Linked DNA regions of Homo sapiens: region 1 is linked to region 2. A link means that fine-mapping ties the variant in region 2 to the expression of a gene that starts in the linked region. Tissue or cell type: fibroblasts. Region 2 holds a variant in brackets; the other region holds the start of a gene. All regions are shown on one strand. Distances are from middle to middle.

Evidence for each region. PIP is the estimated chance that this variant, and not a neighbour inherited with it, causes the effect.
Region 1: it holds the start of FRMPD4, and the variant in region 2 is fine-mapped to the expression of FRMPD4 in fibroblasts (GTEx, PIP above 0.99).

What each region holds. Positions count from the first base shown.
Region 1 is chrX:12,137,025-12,139,787 of GRCh38, reverse strand. FRMPD4 (FERM and PDZ domain containing 4) reads right to left here and starts at 1,315. Exons shown (of 17, transcript NM_001368397.1): 1 at 776-1,315. The coding sequence starts at 816.
Region 2 is chrX:12,418,500-12,421,262 of GRCh38, reverse strand. The region is part of intron 1 of FRMPD4 (FERM and PDZ domain containing 4); the gene reads right to left. Among named protein-coding and RNA genes, the nearest start is that of FRMPD4-AS1, 45 kb to the right of the region's middle. The variant A/G (reference allele first, on the strand shown) is at 1,486.

The DNA of each region.
Region 1 (2,763 bases), 280 kb after region 2:
TTACTCTGTGGCTCAAACGAAGACTTTGGAAGCATAAGCAGGGCAGAAGACCTGGAGGAGTGCTCTGGCCAGGCAACACCTAGGCGGCCCAAGCGTGGAAATGTTCCTCTTTTATCAGTACTACCCAAAAATGTCTGAATCGATGATTTAGTTTTAGCTACTGTTTTAACAACATGGCCACTTAGAAGAAAATTTCTAAATCTTTCGAGGCTTAAGAATATAGTTACCCCCCCCCCAAAAAAAAAAAGGCTGAAAGTCTTTCTCTTCTATCTACATGACTTCGCCATCTAGGTTACCGTTGGGAGCACCTGGTCAATCTAGGAGCTGACTTTGTGGAGGTGTGGAGGTGTAATTTAGGAGTTGGGGGAAGGCGGCACTTTTGGTCTTTGCAGCTTGGAAGGCAGGCACCCAAGCTCCAAGCACTTCTGGGTTTCCCTAGCAGTAGCAATTACAACCATCTTCTCTTAGCCCTGAATTATACATGGGACCCCAAACACCGCTGGGGCTTTTCCTTAGGGAAAACAAACTGTCGTGAATGTCGGTGTGTTGGTGAGGGCATGTATGTACCTCTCTGTGTGTGGTCTACACCCGCCGCTACACAAGCCTCAGCAGCCAGTGAGAAATAAGTTGAACGTGGAAGCCCCCGGCCACTTCGTTTGTCTTAAGCCCCGTCGCGCTTTCCAGCTTTTGCCTCTACCCAGCCTCCCGAAAAATAAGGCACCAAGTTGCCCGCGGCAGCGGCCCTGGGTGCAAACGGAACCCGCGCAGCCCCTACCTCGAAAGCTTTGCAATCTTCACAAAGCTGAAGACATCCATGCAGGCAGCTGGGGACCCCCGAGCGCGACAACTCCGTCGCCCCTTCTCACGCCAGCAACAGCAGCCTCCGCAGCCCCATGGCCAAGACCTCAGTGCGCCCGGGGCTCGAGTCGCGGCGACAGCGGGTGGCGGCGGCGGCCGGAGAGAACCTGCACCTGGAGGCGGCGGCTGCTACCCCCCTCCGGCCGCGAGCTGCGTGTGCATCCCCGAGCAGGACCATTGATAGGCACCCGAGGCAGGAAAACTCAATGGAGAGGGAGCCAGGCAGGGCGCAAGAGGCGGGGGCGGGGAGCGCGGCCCGGGTCTCGCGCCCCGCCCCGTGCGCTCTAGCCCCGGGGACTGCCGGGCGTCCAGAGAAAGCGAGGCCTGGGCGAGAGGCGCTGCTCTGGCTTCCCGGCCCTCGGACCCTCGTGCCCCACGCACCGAGGAGCGCAGACGGAGCCGGGAGACGGCAGGCGAGCTGGGCACACGCGCACGCACCCCTCGCAGCACTGCAGCTGCCTCCCTGCCTCCTTCTCCAAGCCGAGTCCCTGCTCCTCTCCCCACCCCCACCCGCCCGGGGGGAGGGGGCACTCTCCTGTCACCCACTGCGTGTGCCTCTAGATCTGAAGGATCTGGTCTAACAGTCTATGGCACACTGGAGAACTGTGAACGCTACCCCTCCCTCCCCAAGCCGAAGGAGAGCCGTGCAACCGCAGGTTGCTCAAAGCCTCGGTTTGCTCCGTAAACAAAACTAGCGTTCGGAAGGAGCAGGGATGATTGAGGTTGGGTCGTTTGTCAAGGGGAAGGGAAGGGAGATGCCAGGCGCAGCGGGCTCGATTCGGGGAGCTCAGAGTTCCCACTGCTTCTCCCGAATCGCTGGGGCGAGACGTGACCACTGGGCTGGCTGGGAAGGTGTGTCTTTGGACAGCAGCACCGCGGGAGTGTCTGCCAAATAAGAACCGGAGGCATTTGCGGGTAGGGGGATGAACACAGCTGCTCCCTCCTCGAGGAGCATAGAGCGGAGGGTCCCAGGAGCCCGTGATGCGGAGGCTAATTCTAACCGGGCTCAGAATCTAAGGAAAGAGAAGGATTAGAATGGGGTCTGCCACGCAGAGCGAGCTGCTTTTGCACACTGAGCCTTGGGTGAAGGGAACAGGGAAGAAAAAAACAAAACAAAACAAAACCTTGCCGGAGAAGCAAAAACACAGAAACATAAACACTCACCTTAGGCAGAGTAAACTCCAAGTTGCAGCCATCTAGAACTCCTCCTAGCCTTCTCTTTTACATAATTACCTTGGATAATCAGCCCTGTTCATTAACTCAGTTCTACCTCCTGGGAGGCTCAGGCTTCATTGGGCCCCTTTTTCTTCTTCCTCTTGAAGTCTCAAGGCCTCTTCTCCACAATCCTTTAAAATTTCCCCCCAGACTGTGAAGGTCAGCTGGCCGCACTAAGTGTGTGCTCTCCCACCGGCAGCGTTCACCTGGCGGCAGGGCCACCGCAAAGAACAGAGAGCACCCCCAGAAATGTTGGAAGATCCAGCCAGTGTTCCAGTCTAGCTCTCCGAGGGGATTAAGAAAGAAATAGGTTTAAAGTTCCCACACTTCTGCTCCTCTCCTGGTCTGTTGTTATATTTAAAGTCTTCAGTATTCAAGCCTAGTACTAAAGCGTTTTTTTTAAGCATTTATTTCAAAAACTGAACATAAAATAAATAGCAATCTGCAAAATCTAAATGACTTAAAACTCAGGCATAAAATTACATGTTTTTGAATACATAGTTATCAGTTTTCCTGCAGCTTCTATTAAACAGGCTAGTTTAATTGCATGAACGCAGTTACTACTCAAGGATCGGAAGGGGCGAGAGGGACCTTGGCTTTTGAACTCTATTGTTTGTAAAATAATTATAGTTTGGGTCTGCACTGTGCTTTATAATTTTTAAAGCTTTTTTTTGCATTGGAGTCTCATCG
Region 2 (2,763 bases):
TAAAGGTCACATTTGACATAAAAAAATGGAATTACTTTTGGTGACATACTTCTTAGGACAATAACTTTTGATCAGATGTCAATTCCTCACACCCCACCCTCCTCATATATAGATAGAAGACTTAACCTGGTCAATGTGTTGCCAACTCCCATTGCCAATCAGGACGCAGATAGTCTTTCATGCAGGCAGTAGGTGAAATTATATCCATGTCTTCGAACACCTATAAATGCTATATTTTTGTAAGCACTGAAATCACTGCCTTTCTGTGCTCAAGCCACCTGTGATTGTTTGACAAAGGAAAATCAGTAAATCTGCTCACCTTTAAAGTGAAAGATAAATTGAAAAGAAATACGAATTTCCTCATTCGACAAATAGGTACGGAGAGATTGTGGTTAAGTGATGGAGCTGGAAAAGGATGCTGTGAGGATTCTATGACATGTAAGAGAGACAAGGCTGCTGCCCTTCTGAAGGTCACATCAAACATGCGGTTACATGTGTGGATTGACAAACGCCATCACAGAGCACACATAGGGTGTTACAGAAGGCTAGATGTGTGTCAGAAATCTAAACTTGAATATCAACGACCGGTGTTGAGTTAGTCAGCACTGCCTGTGTTCAGGGTAAGAAGGTGTAAATGGGGATGGGGCAGGGATGGTGGCCCAGGATGAAGGATGAAGGATCAGCATGTGTGAGGGGCTGAAGGGGAGAGCCCATGGCAGCATGGAAGCCCTTGGAGCCAGCACAGAATGCCGAGGGAGGGCAGGTGATGAGAGATGCAGCAAGTGAGGTGAGAGGTGGAGGGGACAAGTGTTTCAGGGCCTTGAAGAAATAGTGAATTGATGAGCTCTGTGCCTTGGAAGGATGACCCTGGTGGCACAGTGGAAAACAGGCTAGAAAAGAGCCAGTTAGGAGACTACTGCCATTAGTAGAGACAATGGAGGCCCGGGTGGGACAGTGTTAGAAGTTAGAGAACAGCAGATTGTTTTGAGGATTCAGGACACTGATGACACAGAGCTTGGAGATTGCTTGGATATTGTGAAAGACAGTGAGGGTTTAAGACAAAGGAAAGAGTCAAGAATGGTTTCCAAACTTCTGGTATGGGCAACTAGACAGAGTGTGGGCCATGAGAATAGAGATGAAGGAGCAGGCGTGATGGTGACATGATAAGTTCAGGGCGTGTTAAATTATAGGTGCTGGTGGAATAGGCAGGTAGAGGTGTCCCAGCAAGCTGCTCAGTATTTAGGTATGAAGATTGGCAGAAAGATCTGGGCTGAACACAGCTGTCACCAGCCTAAAGACGGTAACGGAAAACAAAGAAGCATGGAGTGTGGGAGGAGGTGAGGGCCCCACAGGTCGTTAACCTTTAAGGTTAGGCAGAGGAAGAAAAGCCCATGAAGGAGATAAAGGAGGAGGAGCCAGGGAGGTAGGAAGAACACCAGTAGTGTACATGGTGTTCCTCTCTGGACTCCTGTAAGTCAGAGGAAA[A/G]GCATTTCCAGAAGAACGGTCAAGAACAGTGTGAATGATTCCCAGAAGTCTAGTAAGGACTTGCCCTTGAATTTGGTGTCCTTGGAGCAAATAGGTTCAGTGAACTGATATGGGCAGAAGCCAGATTTGACTGGGTTGGGGAGTTTTAGACCAGCACTTCTCAACCATTTCACCCTCAGGACTCCTTTCCACTCTGAAACATTTTTGAGGACCCCCGAAGAGTTTTTGTGCATGTTGCTTACATCTACCGATATCTAATATACTAGAAAGTAAAACTGATAAATTATTGAAATATTTTTTATGTATTTAAAAACAACAATTCTATTTCATAAGTCATATCTTTTTATAAAACATAACCATATTTTCCAAAACAAAAACATTTGGTGAGAAGAACAGCATCTTTTTACAATTTTGCAGATAGATCTCTTTAATACATTGCTCGACAGATGACAGTGGGTTTTTTCTATCGGCTTCTGGATTCAATCTGTTGCAGTACTATAGGAGACAGGATGCTTTGTCCGAGACAGGAAAAACAACTTATCTTCCACCCTCACAAGGGGGAGGAGGTGATGTAGTATGTGGATATGAGTAAATCAATAGGTTTGGGGGCAGGAGGTTGAGGGACTTTTCATCCAGTAGATTCTACTTTCCCTGCAAGATAGTATCATGATACAGGAGGAGGGAGGGGTCAGCAATTTTAAAAGCATAGGGAATATTAGAGCATAAATAATCAAGTCATTCTTTCTTATTAAGAAATCCAATGAATAAAGTCTCCTTGGATAAACATAACCCATGACATGAAATACCAAGAAAGGTATCTGGGGTGTTAGAAAATTGTGAGGCCTTCTGGGAAACTGAAATTCATGAAGAATTATTTAAGAAGAAGAAACAAAAATAAATGTAACATCTTTGGCCCTTCTGGAGAAAAGCTGAAGAAATGGTGGCTGTTTTCCGCTATTTATAAGCTAGCAACAAGGGAATTATCATAGGATGCAGCAAGAAAGTTCAGTTACATGATTATGTCTGGGTTCTGGGTTCAGCAGCAGTTTTCTTCTATGCTTATCTCAACCTTGTCACATAGAAACAAATTTTATTTACACTTAGAAATACTGATGGATGTGGCCAGGTGCGGTGACTCACGACTGTAATCCCAGTACTTTGGGAGGCTGAGGCGGACGGATCACGAGGTCGGGAGTTCGAGACCAGCCTGACCAACATGGTGAAACCCCATCTCTACTAAAAATACAAAAATTAGCCAGGCATTGGTGGCACGCGCCT